Linked DNA regions of Homo sapiens: all the other regions are reported to be linked to region 2. Evidence: microRNA targets listed by miRTarBase, many of them from high-throughput screens and not tested one by one. Region 2 holds a microRNA gene; each other region holds the end of a gene's coding sequence.

Region 1 (4,056 bases), not on the chromosome of region 2:
TCCATCTCATTTAGCACCACGTGACCCCACTACATATGTACTTGTTCACTGAGTATCTCCCCTAATCAGAATATTGAGGGAGATATTTTGTCTATTTTGTTCATTGCTATAACCTTGATACCCTGGCCTCTAATGTGTCTCAATAAATATCAGGACCAGTGGATTAGTGTTTTCAGAGTCATTTGGTTGTAAATAAGAGAAAACCACTCACAGTCAACTAAGCAAACAAGTGTTAGAGGGAATCCAAAAATATCATGGACCCCTGGGGGAAGAGGTACAACCAGAATAGGGCAATAGGAAGTCATCAGGAACTAAGATGGTTTCTCTCTCCTCTAGTCTGAACTATTAAAGCAGGATAATCTTTATTTTCTTTGCACTTAGGTTTCATTCTTGTTCATTCTCTACAAACCAACTTTCTCCGCTGATGACCTAGACATAGCATTCCCAGCCTCCCATTTTCCCAGATCAGGAATTTCATTATAAATCCCAATTACAAATCCCTGCTTAGAGAAGGGTTGAGTCAGTTGTACCACCATGGTCCAGTTAACTATAGCTGAGGGAACAGGCATGCGGCTTTTTAATGTCTAAGAGGGTATTTTGTTCCTAGAAAATGAAATGCCCTCATTGAGTTGAACAGACTAAATTTGTTTTAACAATCCCATTTACAATTCAAATTCCTTTAAACAACTTAATAGCATTTATACATTTAAAAAAATGATTCTTTTAAGCAGCATTGCAAATGCTTGACCCCATTAGCATAAACCTTCCCAAGTGCTTAAATCTCATAAACATAATAAATTAAACATACGGTGACTTTCCAAGTTCTCTGAAACATTTCAGTACTTTTGCAGACTTAGTAACATTTTAAAATACCTTTCAACTGAAACTCATAAGTCTAAAAGTCTGTTAAGCATTTTAAATTAGAATCTTAAGGCCAGTGTCACATATTGTAATATGCCAATTATGTTTAAATACTTCAAACAGCAAATACTACAGTTTATCTCAATGAATATAATAACCATTCCTGCTGGGCGCAGTGGCTCATGCCTTTAATCCCAGTCATTAAGGAGGCTGAGGTGGGAAGATTGCTTGAAACCAGGAGATTGCCTCAGGCCTGGGCAACATGGTGAGACCTCTTATCTCAAAAAATCAAAATAAAAAATTAGCTGGGCATGGTGGCTCATCCCTGTAGCCCCAGCTTCTCAGGAGGCTGAGGTGGGAGGATAGCTTCAGCCTAGGAGACAGAAGCTGCAGTGAGCTATGATCACACCACTACACTCCAGCCTGGACAACAGAAAGAGACCTTGTCTCTAAAAACAAAACAAAACAAACAAACAAAAAAGTACTCCTGAATTTAAGTATTGATGGCTATGGGAATTGCTTCCTAACCTGTTTGAAAAATGTGTTAACTGTTACATATTTTGAGAACTGCAGCACTCAGTGAAGCTTTGTTAAAGGGAATGAGGAGTTTAGGCCCCAGCAGGCAAACCACTTCACAGTGCTAGGATGAAGAGCTCACACTCAGGGACTTCGAGAGTGAATCAACTACTTTCGTTAACTCAATGTTAAATGAGAATAACATCAACCTTGGATGGTTGTGGTGAGAATCAAATGAAATGACATATGGGAAAACCTTTGTCACATGTTACACAATTGACGGCAACTACAGCTTTAGGTAGAATTTCAACTTCTAATTTTTACTACTATGCAAATTATCAGAATATTTATGATGTTAACTTTTTAAAAAGGTTTTTAAATAGAAACTTTATTTAAATAAATGAACTCTTCTCAACCCCAAAACCCAGCTTCTGATCTTGACTAAGTTCATAATTACTCAGGGAAAAACACTGCTGGTTCCTTATAAGCCACTGTGCTGTACGAAATCAATTCATGAAAAGGAAACGCCCTATTTCCAAGCATACCTGTACTAGAATATATTAAGTATATTCACTTAACATATTAATTTAAATGTTAATGTTAGTCTAAATGTTAAATTAATTTAATATGTTAAACTTAATACGTTTATTTAATTTTTACTTAATACCCTTACTGGAACATATTAAGCATTTTTTCGGCTTAAAAAAAACAAAAAAACAAAAAAAAACCCTGAATTTACAGAACTAAAATTATGAGAGGAGATTCGCATTACAAAATCTTCCTCTATGGGTTCTTCTAGCTCAAGACATTTTTCTTACTGATTTTTAACTACTTGAGTTGGCGTAATAATTAGAGAAAAGCAGGAGAGGTAGCAACTGTGAAACCAGTGTACTAGGAGTTACTAGCCAATGATTATCTATCAGGAACAGATACATCAAAAAGCCAAGAAAATAAGAATCTCTCTTTATAAAAAAATAATAGTTACAGGCTGGACACAGTGGCTCACACCTGTAATCCAAGCACTTCGGGAGGCAGAGGCAGGTAGATCACTTGAGGTCAGGAGTTTTAGACCAGCCCGGTAAGGTGAAACCCCGTCTCTACTAAAACTACAAAAATTAGCCAGGCGTGGTGGGGCACACCTGTAATCCCAGCTACTCAGGAGGCTGAGGCAGGAGAACTGCTTAAACCCGGGAGGGCAGAGGTTGCAGTGGACTGAGATTGCATCACTGTACTCCAGCCTGGGCGATAAAGCGAGACCCTGTCTTTAAAAAAAAAAAAAAAACTTCTAAAAAATAATTATTTACATTAAACTTTTAAAAACAACTATTTTTCAAAGCAAACTGCTCTGCATTGGGGTTCCGAAATACAATATGATTGTGAATAATGGGGGGAGGAATCTAAATACAAATCAGAGAAAACAGTTTTCAGAGGATTAGGTAGCTTAGCTACAAGATTAGCTTGAAACATATGAAGAATAGTCTGAAAGGCTGTTGTAAGAAAAATGACAAATTCTATCATTCCTCTGACCTGAAACAAGGTGAAAACTTGGTAGAAAGGCTGCATGAAGAAAAAAAAAAAAGTAGTCCAATAAGGTCTATCTGTAGAGCTTGCTCTCACACTCTGAATACAAATCTAGCTAGTGTCAGTTCTTCAGAGCCGAAAACTTACTTGCCACACTTGGAACCGATGCAGTCCCATTACCAGCTGAAGCAGGGCATGTGATCTAAGACAAGTGTAGATATCAAGGAGACAGGAAGCAAGCTAAGCAAGGGCCTAGAAATCCCAAAGGCACTGATTAAAGTCAAGAAAGAGGCTTTTTGTTGTTGCCAATTGTTTTTGTTGTCTTCCAGAGGTAATACAAGGCTTTGCTCCTTTAGCAGGATTCCCAGTTGGACCCTCTCCAGAGAGGATTCATATTTGAATTCCCATCTGAATACCAACCCAAATGTTGATACAGAACACTCCTGTATTAAAATTAATATCCATCCCAGATAAACCTACTCTGTGACTAAGACAATTGAGATCTTCTAGGTGAAGATGCTATAATTCAAAATATTACATGGAAAACCATGTCTTACTTAAAACGGGTACTTGTTTTCCGGCCATAATTATTCCAGTCTCTTCCACAGAACTGCTTCTGCAAACAGTTTTTTTAATGTATCAAAGAGAGTCTCTCGCCAACATTTAATACAGTCAAATCTATTCCAACTTCAGAGTTCTTATATGTCTTATTTAGCAGACACTATGATTCTATCTTCTTATTCTCTGGAAATCCATCAGATGTGTGTTCCAACACAGAAGTGCCTTCCTTCCTTCTCATGGTGGCAAAAAGCATATCCATCATCCCCAAGGTTTCTAACAATTCTCTTTGGTAATCAATCTCTTTTTCTACAAGTCCTTGAAGTAGTAAAAACTTTTTATCAACTACAGGGGACTGACCAATTACAGGCAGATATATATCTAAAAAGAGAGAAAGAAAACACATTAACTAGCAATATCTTTCCATACATTAAGTGAAAAGCAAAAGTTTTTAAAAGTATAAAAATATTAAACATAAGAACACTGAAAAATCTGTACTTATTTTATAATTAATTAATGATTTATAGAAAGTATAACAATCCCTCTGAGTAAATTAATTTCAAAAAATAATAATTACAGAAAGTATAGGGTGGAGTTCCT
Region 2 (4,068 bases):
CATGTGAAAGTGAACCCTTGTTCACAAACCAAAACATGGCACGTTGATTCTGGGCCGTTCTCCCACGATGGACGGTATATGGCATGTGGGGAGACAGGCGACACATATCACAGGGAAAGCACCTGGTCTCCAGCCCCAAACCACTGTGAGTGTTGTCCACAGACCGGCGGTATTAGCATCACTTGAGAACTTGCTAAAAATGCAGAATCTTGGTCCCTGAATCAGAATCTGCTTTTTAACAAGATCCCTAGGTGATGAAAATCTTAGGAGCATTTTTAAAGTTTGAGAAACACTACTCTAGCCAACTATTCATATGCACACGCACACAAACACACACACACACACACACACACCCCAGAGGTGCTGTCGACCACAACGTCTTATTCCATGAGAGTCTGTCTAAGATGGGGTGGTTCCCAAGGAAGGCACGAAGCCATGCCACGTCCACCAAGAATAATCCAAATACCCAACAGGCAGCTGCTTAGGAGCTGCCAAAAAGTAGTAATAGTAACAGGAAATGTACGGAGTTTTTACTAATGTTTGCATTCCCTACAGGAAGTGTTTCATACTCAGAATGAAGGCTACAGATAGGAGAGGCTGGACCCAGGTTCCCCGGTCCACCATCTACCTAGAGAGAGGCTTGACCCCGGCATCTCTCCAAGGAATTCCTCGTGGCTAAGATTTAATAACAAGAAGAGAAAGAGAGATGAAATAATTGTGAACATCTTCCAATAAAAAGATATGGCACCAAGCCCCTAAATGGCATCTCCACCCCAAAGCTAGCATTTGTCCAAGGAAATCACACTGGTGGCTTGCATTCTGAGATCACTGGATTCATCATTATAAATCATCAACACAGTCACACTCCATGGTGGGGCAGGCACCAATGTCCCCTCACTGAAGTCAGCACTGTGCTTTCAAAAACTTCTGAAGCAAATTTGGATACTAAAACAATGGTTGTCCGATATTAATCATCATAAATATAGAGACCATACTACGGACAGCCATTCTTTAAGCACCAAAGAACTGTGCCATCAAGAAGAGCTGGGCATCTTCTCCAAAGTTGGTGTCTCTTCCAGAAAGTTCTTCTCAGGTAGTCCAAACAATGAGGATTAGCAGGTCAGCTTCACACATTGAGAGTCAAGCCCATGCCTGGGGGTCAGTCACACTCTTGGGCAGGGGAAGGGGGTCTGGCCCCAATGATCGGTCCCTAAGGTTTGCTTCATGTCCAAGAAGTGCCTCCAAGAAGCAGGATTTGATAAGTAGCTTGAATGCTGCGTCACCCACAACACACACCCATGGCCAATGCAAATCCCTGATAGCACCAAGGAGTCCCGTGGCCCCCTGCCAAGCGTGGCCCCGCCTCCAGGGTTCTGAGGTTAGGGCACAAGTGTCCCCACCACAAACCAACTGCATGCGCCCTCATCCCCACCCAGGCGTGAGCCCCTGGGAAGGGCTGATGCGTGCATCCCTTTACAGAACTTGTCATGGCGTCCAGGAAGTCTGCCGAGGCAAGATTTGATACTCAAAAAGAAATTGTCCTTGTATGATTCATCATAAATAAAGCGAACACACCAAGGATAATTTCTCCTCAAGTATGAAACAGCAGCACGGACCACCACCTCCAGGTCTTTGGCTCAAGGTTAGATGGTGACTGCTTCGTGGCAAACCCAGTCACACACTCGCTCATGCACACACACCACGCACACACAGGCATGCACAATGCATGCACCAAGTTTGACCTCTCTTTAAGCACCAGGGAAGCAAGATGCCATAGAATCCTCACTCAGCTTGGCATCCTCGCTCAAGACTCCTTCAAAGCGTAGATAGTGGCCGAGGTCAAGAACCCAGGGACTGTCTCTCTTAAGTGGAGCAAATGTTCTCGGCACCCCTGCTGACCCCCACTGCATGTGGCATTCTGTATCAAAAGCCACTGTGTGAATGGCTTAGCTGCCAAGCATCAAGAGCATCACTAGCCCCCATTGTAAACACCGTGTATGCTCTGGGCTTCCTAGTCCATTCCATACCCGATGAAGGACTTGACTTCCATGTTTTGACACTGTTCCAAAAACCCATGGAGAGATTTTAGTCATAAAACCACCACCACCACCACCACCACCACCACCAATGATAGTTTCACAGCACACAAGGGTCCTGGCTACCACCTACGAAGTGCCGACCACGGGGCTCTGCTCTGAGCCGTGTACAAGTCTTAACTCGTTCAGCCCCAGCAGCCCCAAGAAATGGACGCCAATGTGATTCCCCTTTGACATGTGAGACAATGGGCACAGCACGATGAGATCCTTGCCCAAGGTTGGACGGTTAGTAAATGTCAGAGGTGGGATCCAAACACAGGAAATCGAGCTCCAGAGTCTGCGCTCTTGATACTGAAAAAGTGGATGACCCTGTACGATTCGACATGAGCAAAACGAACAGGACAGGGATAACCACTCTCCAAGTACCAAAGGTTAGCACGGAAAAGAAAGCCACTGCCTTGGGTGGACTTGGTACGTCTTCAAGGCGCGGTCCTGGGGATGAATTAGATGCTGAGGGTTAGTGGACCGGGTCACATACCCCAAGCAGAACATGCACACTCACGGACCGAGTAACAGCAGGGACCACAAAGCCACTACCCCACACGAGCGCCACCCCAGCCATCGGCCCGGGCTGATGACTTCCCGCTCAGGAAGCAGGGACCCAGACCACACACATCGTGCATGCTTTTGGCCCCGCCCACACTGCACCAGGAGAGGGGATGTCCCAGAGGCCACTGCCTTCCCTAAAGTCATCCAGGTGCCCGTGAAGTCCTCTCTGTGAAGTGGGGACCCGTGAACGATTTGCCACACACAAAACGGATACACACGGTCATGCACACACATACCGCATCCCTTGCTGAGTGTGGACTGGGTCCAAGACAAGGTTTGATACTCACAGAGAGCTTGCCCTTGTATATTCCATGTCAATAAACCGAATATACAAAGGGCAACCTCGCTTTAAGTACCAAACAATAGCACTGGGCAGGTTCCTCACTATCATTCACGGGGCCGGCCTCCTCTCCCGGGGTTCATCCTGGCGGGGGAGGGGGTGGGAGATGCGGGATCAGCAGACCAGGTGGCAAACACCACCTGCCAGCTGTGTGCCCATAGGTCAGCTCTCCATCCCAAAGGGGCCAGGAAGGGGCAGACGCCAGTGCCCCTTCACCAGAATCAGCCTCTTTTCCAGGCATCACTCCAGATTAGAACTTGTTCCTGAAAAGGAGATCCACCCCACGGGCCTTCCTGGGCACACGCAGAGCTCAGCTTCTCACTTTCTATAGGAATTCCCTGGGGTGGGACCACCATCTCCTTCCCAGTGTGGGCACCTCTCCAGGAAGTTTTCCTAAGGATGCACTCAGCACCGAGGTCCCAGGCACTGGATGAATTTACACCTTAGACAAAGCAAAGGCCCTGTGGTCACCATCCCTTCATCCATCTCACAGAGCCGTTGACACCAGTGTCATTCTCCATGCCAGCCCTTGCCCCACCCCTGCCAGAGGCTGGCATCGTGGCCATGAAGCCATGCTAAGAAAGAGCACAGGGTCAACAGTAGTAAACCCCACGTACCCCCAAGTAACTGAGGAAGCAGACCCACAGCCCATTCCCCACAGTGGTCTCTCCTTCAAGAAGGGGAGAGGAGCGGGAGCCGCCTGGTCCAGGTGGCAGGTTATGTGACTCATTACCCAGGCGTGGTGCTCACCTCTCTTCAGCTGGACGTTCGCTTTCCTTGGGCTGAGGATGCTGCGAATGTCCTTCCTGAAGCTGGCTTCGGGTCCAGATGACCCCCATGGCAGTCGGGGTGTAAAAAGCCGGCAGTCACACGGCCCAAGGAGTGTCTCCACAAACACAGAACAAGAGTCCCATTCTCAGGCAGCCATCCTAGGTGTGAGCAGAAAGCCAGCAGTCAGAGACGGGGCACAGACATCGAGGCAGAAGCAGGCGCCCTCTGACCTCCCACATGCACGCACCTGGTGCGGGGCTGACAGCTCCCACGGCTCATCCCCAGCGCTGCCTTCATGGGCAATCACAAATG
Region 3 (4,056 bases), not on the chromosome of region 2:
AATTTAAATGTAACTCTAAAAGTTATGTTAAAAACATGTCATTTAGACCAAGCATGGTGGCTCACACCTATAATCCCAGCACTTTGGGAGGGCAAGATGGGCTGATCACTTGTGGCCAGGAGTTCAATACCAGCCTGGCCAACGTGGCAAAACCCTGTCTCTACTAAAAATACAAAAATTAGCTGGACATGGTGGCGCACACCCATAATCCCAGCTACTCGGGAGGCTGAGGCACGAGAATCACTTGAACCCAGGAGGCAGAGGTTTCAGTGAGCCGAGATTACACAACTGCACTCCAGCCTAGGCAACAGAGCCAGATTCTTTTTTTTTTTTTTTTTTTTAAAAAGTCTTTTAAAAAATTCTTTTATTGTGCTGATTTTATTGTGTCATGAAGTGTAATATGCATGTAGGTATGTGTCAAGTATACAGAGTGTCAGGCATACGGTGTTCAGTCATAAGCAGTTCTGGCCTTTGGCCCTGCACTGTTTGTTGGCTTTTTAGGTAGGAACCTTCTTAGAGTAAGACTGTCATGCTAAAATTGTAGCAATCAAATGTGCCCCCCATACAACTCATTTGAGGTTGAGATTATGTTGCTAGAGTGGAGGAGATTGGAGTGTTCTAAATGCTAACAGTTTGTCCTGCCTCCTTGCCCCTGCCCCCTGCTCCTTTTTGTTTTCTTCTACTGTAGGTCAGCCCCAGTTGATGCTGACAGCAGGACCCAGTGTTGCCGTCCCTCCCCAGGCACCTTTTGGTTATGGTTATACCGCACCACCGTATGGACAGCCACAGCCTGGCTTTGGGTACAGCATGTGAGATGAAGCGCTGATCCTGTAGTCACCTATTTTCGTACTGAAACATCGTCTTTACCCACTTCTCAGTTTATAATGGGGGAAAACAGGCAACGTGTTCTTGTAACCTTTATTTCATGAAGGACTTCTTTTTGTTTCTAACTATAAACTTGGATCACCTATGTTAAAACCTTATTTCACATTCCACATCATTTTAGAATTTATTTTCGAAGGGGAATAGTTTCAATGTTTTATTCACTTGGGCTTTTTTTCTTCCCCCTCTTTCTTTAAAGAACTGCTCAATATTCAATCTGTTGTGAAGAACCTGATTTGCACTCTGTAGTGTTTAAAGAAACAAAGAAACTCTAATATTGAATCTCTTAAATTTAGTGTATGTAAACAGCTTACAAATACGTATTGTCTAAATGCATTTAAATCTGTTTTATTCAAAGAAAAGCTAAAGCAAAAACACTGGCATATGACCATGCAAGACTGTCAGTGCCAACAAAGACAACACTAATCAGCACATCGTACACTGGATTGCAGTGCTTCCCAGATTATTGAAAAATGTTACAGACAACTTGCCTGATTTTTAAATGAGCGTAAAAGGCCCTCTAACCTATGCAGGTTTCCCCATTATGCATATAGAAAATGCTAGTATGTTTTGCTCACTTCATATGTAACAGGTGCCCTTATGTTGTGCTGTATCCTGTGCTTTTTCTGTGGGACCATTCCATTCAGGAGCAAAGAGCACCATGATTCCAATCTTGTGTGTGTTTACTAACCCTTCCCTGAGGTTTGTGTATGTTGGATATTGTGGTGTTTTAGATCACTGAGTGTACAGAAGAGAGAAATTCAAACAAAATATTGCTGTTCTTCAGTTTTGTTTGTGGAATTTGAAATTACTCAAATTTAAAATAAATTACTGGACTGTGGAAATAACATAGAATTGAAGTTTTAATTAAATACCACTCAAACGAAAAGAACAGTAGTTTTTGTAGTTTTATATTGGATACTGAGGCATTAGGGAGGCATGAAAGGAAGAGGAATGAGGATTGAGACATGTGAAGACATTGTGCATTATATCAATGTGCATTCCTGTAGTTCATTAACAAGGTACATGCAATAGTCTAAAGAACCAGAGTCACTACTATAGTGGCTTAACATTTAATCTGTCTCCAATATTTTAACCAAGTGACACCGAGGTTTTTATCGAAGCATTTCACTTAAATGAACAAATCATGGCTGTTATATTAACTTGAAATAAAATATATTTAAACATGTAGTTAACATGCTCTTTCTCATCATGAATTATAAAGGTGCCCAAATTATGGGTATCTTGATTTTTTTCAAAAATTGGTTGTGTGAATCCAGCTCTTGCTTATGGCTGAGAATGTTCCTAAAGTTCATTTCACTATCCCTTAATCCTCAATAGCTACACATACCCCCTTGCCTAGTTAGTCTTGCACTGCTTTACAACTCTCTTAGGCAAATTACCTAACATAAGCTCCACAGAAGAGTTTTTTAAAACTTAAAATCCCTGTCCCACCAGGTGTGGTGGCTCATGCCTGTAATCCCAGCACTTTGGGAGGCTGAGGCAGGCGGATTGCTTGAGGCCAGGAGTTCGAGACAAGCCTGACCAACATGGTGACTCCATCTCTACTAAAAATAAAAAATCAGCCAGGTGTGATGGTGGATGCCTATAAGATCCTAGCTGCTACTCAGGAGGCAGGAGGCTGAGGCATGAGAATCACTTGAACCTGTGAGGCAAAGGTTGTAGTGAGCCAAGATCACGTCACTGCACTCCATCCTGGGTGACAGAATGAGACTCTTGTCTCAAAAAACAAAAAAACCTATTTAGTTTCATCCAGGACATTAAGTGAAAGTGTTTAATGTGAGTGCAGGTCAGTGAAGAATACAATGGTGCCCCTGCTTTGATTTGTGGGAGGTGCCATCAGTTTTCCCCACCACTGCTTTTGCACCCTCAGTGCAAATATCAACACAGAGAAAAAAAAAATAATAATAGTATTATGAAAACATTGACTCTGTGGAGACCCTGTGGGTTCTGCAGAGTATACTTTGAAAACTATAAGATTATGAGTTCTATAAAATACCAAGTACAGATGAACTAGAAAACAAGCATATATCCACAATTACCAGAATTTTCATAGTATTCCTTTTAGTAGATATGCCATGACAGTTACTTAGCCACCCCATGCCATCCTGTTGGGAATGCCACTACCTTTGAATTTGGAGCCATCAGTCTATCTGAGGCAAACCTCAGAAATTACCTGAGCCAGAATCATGCACTTAGCACTGAGTTCAACTCAGTCTTAACGTTGCATTTTGTTGCATCACTTTTGCAGCCAGTAAACATTCTGTTTAGAAATAGTTGCTATTGTGGCATCATTCACAGTTGCAATTTTTCTCCTGTGCTGTCATATGCCTGTGCGAAGTGTATTAAATGAATCAAATATTAGAAATTTCAAGGCTGTCTTTAGTGTTCTGCCCACAATACTCCACCAATGACCTTAGACCTTGAGATGGTGCTATAACGCTGCTTATATTGCAGTTAACCATAGAGAGGTGGAGCCACTTAAAATGGGCCTATTACCAAAATTCTCCCTGGCATCATTACAGTTCTTGGGGATACACTGATTTTAGAAATTACTGTCAGTATCCTCCTAAAAGAAGGCTTAAATAGTTTCTAACAAGATGACTATCAGGAAGCTATGTGGCTTGGGGAGTTGGGACCCTCTGCCTCATATTCTGGGTAACTGGTATAACATAGTAATTATTAGGATTGTATCAAGTGTATCTAAAGATCAAAAGGGAAAAAAGGCACCCTTAATTGTCAAAGTTAGTTCTAGGAAAAAATACTAGCAGGGATGACAAACTACGTTCACTTTACAGTTACCATAAATTCTTACTTGGGCCCACCCATTTCCATCTGTTAAGGTCCATAAGGTTACTCAAGTTTCAGTGGCTTCATTGTTACAAGAAAGGGGGGAAGTGAGAAACTTTAATAGGCTGTGATTTAGAACCACTGCTGATTAACCTTTGGCCAGTATGGGTCAGGGAAGGTGAACATGAAACACTGCACAGTAGGTTGTATCAATGCTATAAAACTCAACCTGGAGACAAAATTTAAACAGGTTATAAACCATGGGACTCCATTGAGGGTGGCTGTATCAGTCACCCAAAAAGTGACAGCAGGGGAACAAACTGCAGCTTGCCTCTAGTGGGAATACCCTTGAACCTCGACCTC
Region 4 (4,056 bases), not on the chromosome of region 2:
TGTGCCTTTTGGAGCCTGATGCATCTGGCAGGAAGTGAGTTTTTTTTATTATAACTCCTACCATCAGTCAGCAATTATCAAAAAGTTCCTGACAACCAGTCCACTTATATTTTATTCTGTGAATTTAAAATTCTGAACTGCAGCAGACAGTCCCCAGATGAATTTGAGGCCTTTCGAGAGTGTAAAATGGCTGGAATATCTTTCTTCTCTCTTTGTCCATAGGTTAACCTCAGAGCCACAGACGTCAGGCTCATGCGCCAGTTGCTTGTAATCAATGAGAGCATCGAGTCCATCAAGTGGATGATCGAAGAAAAAGCCACCATTACCAGCAGAGGCAGCAGCCTCAGTGGCAGCCTGTGCAGTTTGTTGGAGAGTCAGAGCACCTCCTTACGTGGCAGCTACAACAGCCTACACGATGGCAGTGATGGGCTGGATGGCATTTCCGTGGGAAGTTATCTGGACACGTTGGCGGATGATGTCCCAGGCCATCAGACCCCTTCAGACTTGGACCAATTCAGTGACAGCTCCCTCATAGAGGACTCACAGGCACTACACAAGCGTCCTAAATTGGATTCTGAATACTACTGCTTTGGCTAGTGACAGTTTTTTGCATGGGACTGGTGTGCAATGAACTTGTATTTATCCTTCTTCTCCGCTGCTATATTTTTGGTGTGATTTTTATTTTAATAAGATGACCTTTTTAAAAGAAGCTGATTTTGAAACTGCTTAATGGTATTGCTGTTGCTCCTAATACTTCTCATCTGAGCTGATTTATTTTTCTCTGTTACATCTCTATTTTTTATTTATTACAATGATTTTCTCCCTTCTTTTACAGTAGCACAAACAAAGTAGGGGGAAAAGAATAAGCAATAATTATGTTTTTGCTTTTGTTTTCAGAGCAATGGGTCAGGGATTACAAGAAAAACTTTGCTAAATTTTACAATAAACCAAAGTCTGATAACAGTTAATGTTGCTGCTTGCGTCCTTAAATGACTTAAGGTTTCATCTTCCAGAAGATATTGAGATATATTACTGTTTGCATATCAGGTTGAACAAAATGCTTGGAACAAAATTAAGCATTATTTCTAGACCACAACATTCTAGTGTATAATCAACCATACTGTTAGTCACACACGCCCACATGACAATCATCTGAAAGTCCCCAACTATACACATTCTGTTCAACCAACTCACCCTTGTGTTGGTACTTTAGATTAACATTTTGTCATCAGTGATTCTAACTCAAATCATATGTTTATTTGTGTAATAAAATGTATTATTCTCCCAAATTTCAAGGAATAATTGAGATTAAGTATGGAGGCCATTCAAGGCAAAAATGTCCTAAATTTAATTGCATTTTGAGATTTTGTTGGCATTTACTTGTATGTATTTTGTGATTCTGATAGGATGTATAAATACTTAGATGCATACAAGCCGATGGATAGAAAGACAGATAAATATCCCGATAGCCTACTATCAGCATCCTACTACTGCTTCCCTAAAGCAGAATTGTTATTCATTTAAGAAGTCTAATATGATATACATTCATCCTAGTATAAATAAATAATCTCTAAGTTTTCTGAAATGGAATATTTAACGCACATAGACAGTGGATATTTACTTTAAATATAATGTTATTAATCCTCTGCATTTCTTTTATCTTGATAACTCCTAGTGAGGGAATCTAATTAAGATTTCATGCTGTTCTTTGTAATGATAAATGTTTCCGGACTAAACACTCTATAATACAAATCAAAAAATCTTCCTTCTTATAACTGAGAAATGTTTCACCCAAATTTCCTTTGTTATTATATATTTACTACACATGTTGAATTTATTATTGTTTATTTCCAAGGCATGTATTATTCAATTTCTAATTAAAATATATCAGGGCTTATATTTTGCACTGATCTTTTCCCATAAGTCGCTTGATATAATCCTCATCACAACAATCTCATAATGTGAGGACTGTCATCATCCTATGTTTGAGGAAATTGAGGCACATAGAAGGTAGGCCACTGAGACAAGTCTCCCAGTAAGTGTCAAAGCCAGGATTTAAACTTGCATCTGTCTTATTCCTAACAATAACACTCAATAACCTCTTTGGTAATTATTGATGTTAAATAATAAAATGGGAATGAGAAAGCAAATGTAAGCTCATAACAAAAATTAAAAATGTAACCAACCAATTTCAAACAGAAGATAATGAAATATGTAACCATATGTCCACAACCTTGCAAGGAGAATATCCTCAACTACAAAGAAGTGGCAGGCTGCAAGAGTGTGAGGCATCAAAGGCAAATTCTAACTTCTTTAAAACCTACCCTTTGCCTTGAACAAGCCATGCACATGAAAGGCCATTTCTGTTCTCAGATCAGTTTCAGATCGTGAATACAATCTGGTAAATTTCTGTTACATTCTTCTCGTGCAACCCGCTTCCCCTGCTATATGGCCACCCCATGCCCTCTATAAATTTTCCCTCTGGAGAAAGGAAATGCAAAAAGCACAAGAGTATAATGTGGGAGAAGTGTCTGGAATAGTTTTCATTTATATATTGTATTTTAAGGAAACTATAATGAACATTGGCAGAACACTTGAGAATGTTTTTGGCTTTATGAGTTTCAATATTTTATATGCTTTACATTAATTCCAATATTTTTTGCAAGATAGCAAATAAAGATTCCACCATTTACATATATGGAATCACATGTAAGCCAACAATTTTTTAATAATTGATTTTACTAAAAGGAAGGCAATAAACATTTAAGCAACACTAACTGTTAACATATTCATTGGTCTCAAGAGAGTGAGTGCATAGGAGTGCACCATTTTTAACTGAAGAATCCCCATAACTAATCTCTGACCTGGACCATTTGATATTTGATCTCTGTCAGCACCAGAAGGAAAAGGGGTAAAAAGTTATAGTATTTTTTAAACTATTCTGCCTACACTGAGTTGTGTCTTCCCAGAGAAGATGGAATTTTCCTGAGTTACATTAATCTCTCAATTTTTATGGACTTGTTAGTCTTTTAATGGATGGAAAATAATTAGATGTAAGGAATTTAGACAAGTTAAAACTAGTACATTTTTGGAGTTTTGCAAATAAAGGAACTCTAGAAGACCAACCTAGGAGTCTTAACTAAACTTCAAGGAAACAATGTTTATACTACCAGCCAGCCCCAAAGTACATAGTGTAAAGTTTTAAGTATTCGTCAATGTTTGGAAATGCAAAAAACATTATTTACTGTGGGTGGACTATAAAGGTACTTGGAGCCCACAAATAATTGCATTCAGGCATTTGTTTCCACAACTTCATAAAAACACATACACTTTGGGAGGCCGAGGTGGGCGGATCACAAGGTCAGGAGATCAAGACCATCCTGGCTAACACAGTGAAACCCCGTCTCTACTAAAAATACAAAAAAAATTAGCCAGGTGTGGTGGCAGGCTCCTGTAGTCCCAGCTACTTGGGAGGCTGAGGCAGGAGAATGGTGTGAACCCGGGAGGTGGAGCTTGCAGTGAGCCGAGATCAGGCCACTGCACTCCAGCCTGGGCAACAGAGTGAGACTCCGTCTCAAAAAAAAAAACACACAAAAAAGAAACACAATCACCTCCATGATGACAAAATAAATATTTTTTTATTTTGTTTTGTTTTGTTGAGACAAGGTATCGCTGTGTCACCAGGAAGAATACAGTGGCACCATCATGGCTCACTACAGCCTCCAACTCCAGGGTTCAAGCAATCCTTCTGCCTCAGCCTCTAGAGTAGCTGGGACCACAAGCATGCACCAACATACCTGGTTAATTTTTTATTTTTTGTAAAGATGGGGTTTCACTATGTTGCTGAGGCTGGTCTCAAACTCCTGGACTCAAGTAATCCTTCCACCTCTGCCTCCCAAACTGCTGGGATTACAGGCATGAGCCGTCCTGACAACCAACAAATGATTATTAAGCCTAGCATAGTGGCACATGCCTGTTGTCTCAGCTACTCAGGAAGCTGAGATGGAAGGATTACTTGGGCCCAGGAGTCTGAGTCCACCCTGAGCAACAAAGCAA
Region 5 (4,056 bases), not on the chromosome of region 2:
TACTGCCTAATCACTCACTTAAAGTTAGATGCCCTTGTCACAGATTAGTGACATAGTACTTGTTTTGCTGTCTTGTAAGTTTGATTTGTTCATCTACTCATTAGATAATCACCTCCTTGAGGATTGAGACTAGTTTCACCTCTGAGTCATCCATATGTAGCCCAGAAGTAGTAGTAGCCTGGAAAATAGGTATTTGGTCTTTTTTGAATTTTTCATTCAAATCATAGACAAATTCAAAGCTTAGAGGAACCTTATGGATATCTAGTGCATAACCTCATCTGTGTTAGCTGTCATCATTTTAAGTACTTTGGAATCCACCTCCAATACAAAGTTTATTATAGATGATCATGCTTTATACCTGAAAATTAATTTTATAAAACAGTTCATTTTCTCTTTACAGGTTAGTTGAAACATTAAAAAGCAGACAGTAATTCAGTCCATTCTTCTCCCCTGAAATGAAGACTACATCACCTCTCTCCCTTTGGAAACAGTCAAGTGTACTTCACACTACTAGATGTTAAAACTATATGATTATTGGCATATACTGACTGACTGCAATATTTGTAGTAAATAGGGAAAATAAGTATTTAGTTGGAGGGATAATTTGATCGAATCACCTGAATGTTCTATGTAATGTAAAATATTCTTTTCTTGCTTTCTTGTGTTAAGGTATATATTCTATTTGTATGGAATTCTTATTCAAATACAGTTCTATTAAAGAGTATACTCCTATTGGATGAAAAAAACCTATTTTTGAATAGTAGTTGCAGCTTGTTTGTATAAATACTAAAAAATATCTTAACAGATTTTTTTCCCCTTAAAATGAATTATCTTTCCAAAGATTAGACTCAGTATGAGAGTAGGTGAGGAACATAGTTTGTGTAATATAATCTTTATTTGCTTACCTGACCACTTTTTATTAAGCTGTTTTGTTTAAAAGCTTTTGGTTATAGGCATGAATATTGTTTTGATGGTTAACTTCACTGACTTATCTGTAAGTGTCATTTTATAGTACTTTACAGTTGTCAAAAAAAATCTTACATATATTGATCTAGTTGATCGGTAGAGGAAGCTTGTGAAGTAGGTAGGACAGGTTATGATGTCTTCACTGTATGGACGTGAACCCAGGGTTCTAATAGGTTGGCTTGCCCAAGGTCACCTGCTAGCTTGTAAGGTAGGAATAGGGCTCAAAGTAAAACTTTTGGTTCAGAAGCTTGACTCATAAACTATACTATATATTCCCAAAAATGTCAGTATTGACAACACAGTCTAACTCTTAAATAAAATTATGCTAATTAGTTACATTCAAAATAATGTTTATAAATTTATTTGTCTATACTAGTAGAAGTGATCAGTGACATACTATAAATAATCCTAAATGGTTATATTTGATAGAATTCATAACACATTAAAGAGAAAATTTCACATTAAAGGAAGGTTTAAAAATCTATTTTCAGATTATAAAAGGTGTCTTTACTGGTTTTCATTCCTTTTATCTACATGTAATTGGACATGTAAACTTGTTAAAAATCAAAATCTTACTGATTGTACAGGGAGAAATTAAGCATTCTGTTTTAAAAATTAGGCTTATTGCTAGACTGTAAGTTTAAAAACAATTCATGTTCAAAGGAGCTTTTCAAATTACCCAGTCCACCACAGAATCAGCTAATGTGACAGAAGTAAATATAGTGCGTCATAATTGCTAAAAACAGGGTGAATTTCTTTCACTTAAGTTGGAAAACCAGCCTCTAAAAAATTAGGTGCTGGTAATGAGAGCTTAATACCATGGTTCCCTGCAGGTCTCAGAAACATTAGTAGTTCCTTTCTTGGCCCTCACTGTCCTTCCAGTGTTGGCCTCTGGCCTCTTCCCCTCACATTTATGTTCATTCTCCGGGCTTATATTCATTCTCTGCTGCTTTCTCCCTTCACCCGTGGGACTCTCACCCTTCTTGCTCATTCTCCAGCACCCATTCCTACTTTAGTCTCTTTGAAATCTTTTTTGGAGATTTTCCTTCAGCTACAAATGTTCCAGTACAACCAATATTACTCCTGAGGGGCAAAGACTTTTTCATATTTATGTCCCTAGTATCTGGTATGGCGCCTGGCATATGGCATTTCAGAATATGTTCATAGTTGAAACAGTAGGATAGATATTTGTCATCTTGACAAGTAGCCCTTTGCAATTTATACTTGAGTTCACTCCTGGTCAATGGCACATGGCTGGAAAATGCAGAAAGCAAGTTCACTTACAGCCTGAGGCTTATAAAGCTTGTACAGCTGCCTCCCGGCAGTCCAGGAAAACTGCAAAAAATGGGAAGTAAGGTCCTGGCAGGCAGACCCGGCATGTAGCCGCTGGCCATCTTGAATCCTAGGGCATGAAGTTGCCCCAAAGTTCAGCACTTGGTTAAGCCTGATCCCTCTGGTTTATCACAAAGAATAGGATGGGATAAAGAAAGTGGACACTTAAATAAGCTATAAATTATATGGTCCTTGTCTAGCAGGAGACAACTGCACAGGTATACTACCAGCGTTTGGATATTGATATATACATGGCAAATCTGAATATTGTTTTATGAGAGGCCTGGCAATGGGTAAAACACCAAACTTGAAATCAGAACATAGGTGCAAATGGCCACTCCTGTAGTTTCTTTTCTGTAAAATGGGATCTGGACGAATGATACCAAACGTTTCTTTCTAACATTGTATTTTATAACTCTGGCCTATGATTGTGTTGTGTCTTGCATTAAAAAAAAAAATTTGAGAGTGGTAGAATTACTTCTGTTATCTGAAATACCTGAGATGCACTTTAAACTGTTGAAATGTAAGCTCTGAGGGCAGGGACCGTATCTTATTTACTGTTAGTATCCGTTGCATCTAGTGTGGTGCACCTGGCACACAGTAGGCACTCAATAAATATGTATTGATTAAAAACAAAGACGTCTTCAATATGCCAGATATATTTGTCCTTTCTGATCTTTGCCTTAGTATTTTATTTTTAAAAATTTTATGAAAGCAATACATGCACTTAAGTCACTTAGAATTAATTAAAATCAGTCTTCTAAGATGGCCTCCTTTTGATAAATTACAAAGCCCTTAGAAGCGTGAGAATTCCCGTTTGAGATACACACTACATCAAAGCACAGATGCTGAAGTGAATGAACATTTGATTTCTGTGCCACATACTGTCATATTCTAAGCCCGTAATTACAAATTATAAAGCATGGACTTTTGTTTTTTTTTTTTTTTTTTTTTTTTGAGATGGAGTCTCACTGTCACCCAGGCTGGAGTGCATTGGCACGATCTCGGCTCACTGTAACCTCTGCCTCCCAGGCGCAAGCGATTCTCCTGGCTCAGCCTCCTGAGTAGCTGGGACTACAGGTGCCGTGCCACCACGCCCGGCTAATTTTTGTATTTTTAGTAGAGACAGGGTTTCATCATGTTGGCCAGGCTGGTCTCGAACTCCTGACCTCAAGTGATCCACCTGCCTTGGCCTCCCAAAGTGCTGGGATTACAGGTGTGAGCCACCACGCTCAGCTCAAAGCATGGACTTTGAATCTTGATTGTAGCACCTACATCCTGTATCACCCTTAGGCAAGTTATTTACTCTGAGTCTCAGTTTCTTCATCTGTAAAATAGGAACCAATTGTAGAAATCTCTCAGGAGTACTAGGATTAAACAAAATGTATCCAAAGTGCCTGGCACATAGGGTGGATTTCCCACCCCATATGTCCCCAAATATATGGGGCACTAAAGAATATTTCTTCCACATCAAGTATAGGGTGAGGCAAAAGATGCTATGTGGTTGAACAACAGAAACAACTTGAGCCACCTCTAAATAAGTGTGACTTATTACAGTTTTAGTTTGTTTTTATTTTTTTATTATACTTTAAGTTTTAGGGTATATGTGCACAACGTGCAGGTTAGTTACATATGTATACATGTGACATGCTGGTGTACTACACCCACTAACTCGTCATCTAGCATTAGGTATATCTCCCAATGCTATCCCTCCCCCCTTCCCCCACCTCACAACAGTCCCCAGAGTGTGATGTTCCC

The links. The annotated mature microRNA hsa-miR-381-3p reads UAUACAAGGGCAAGCUCUCUGU and lies in region 2 at 2,931-2,952, opposite strand. An mRNA with a match to its seed (bases 2 to 7 or 8) in the 3' UTR can be bound and repressed. Matches are read on the target gene's strand: a 7mer-m8 pairs with bases 2 to 8, a 7mer-A1 pairs with bases 2 to 7 and ends in A, and an 8mer does both.
Region 1: the mRNA of UTP15 is a reported target of hsa-miR-381-3p. Seed matches in the 3' UTR shown: 7mer-m8 at 3,233-3,239.
Region 3: the mRNA of CLTC is a reported target of hsa-miR-381-3p. The part of its 3' UTR that is shown has no 7-base or 8-base seed match.
Region 4: the mRNA of LURAP1L is a reported target of hsa-miR-381-3p. Seed matches in the 3' UTR shown: 7mer-m8 at 633-639 and 7mer-m8 at 1,380-1,386.
Region 5: the mRNA of ARL1 is a reported target of hsa-miR-381-3p. Seed matches in the 3' UTR shown: 7mer-A1 at 776-782.

What each region holds. Positions count from the first base shown.
Region 1 is chr5:73,579,658-73,583,713 of GRCh38, reverse strand. UTP15 (UTP15 small subunit processome component) reads right to left here. Exons shown (of 13, transcript NM_032175.4): 13 at 334-3,837. The coding sequence ends at 3,620. Among named protein-coding and RNA genes, the nearest start is that of UTP15, 16 kb to the right of the region's middle.
Region 2 is chr14:101,044,852-101,048,919 of GRCh38, reverse strand. It overlaps MIR381 (microRNA 381), which reads right to left and starts at 3,000; the gene lies at 2,926-3,000. It overlaps MIR381HG (MIR381 host gene), which reads right to left and starts at 3,763. Exons shown (of 3, transcript NR_104192.1): 1 at 3,736-3,763. It overlaps MIR487B (microRNA 487b), which reads right to left and starts at 2,465; the gene lies at 2,382-2,465. It overlaps MIR539 (microRNA 539), which reads right to left and starts at 1,599; the gene lies at 1,522-1,599. It also overlaps MIR889 and MIR544A. RefSeq lists enhancers at 2,154-2,654, 2,655-3,155.
Region 3 is chr17:59,693,040-59,697,095 of GRCh38, forward strand. It overlaps CLTC (clathrin heavy chain), which reads left to right. Exons shown (of 32, transcript NM_004859.4): 32 at 689-3,917. The coding sequence ends at 813. Among named protein-coding and RNA genes, the nearest start is that of PTRH2, 12 kb to the right of the region's middle. RefSeq lists an enhancer at 3,663-3,712.
Region 4 is chr9:12,821,164-12,825,219 of GRCh38, forward strand. LURAP1L (leucine rich adaptor protein 1 like) reads left to right here. Exons shown (of 2, transcript NM_203403.2): 2 at 223-1,897. The coding sequence ends at 597. Among named protein-coding and RNA genes, the nearest start is that of LURAP1L-AS1, 8.8 kb to the left of the region's middle.
Region 5 is chr12:101,392,015-101,396,070 of GRCh38, reverse strand. ARL1 (ARF like GTPase 1) reads left to right here. Exons shown (of 6, transcript NM_001177.6): 6 at 401-2,955. The coding sequence ends at 431. Among named protein-coding and RNA genes, the nearest start is that of ARL1, 14 kb to the left of the region's middle.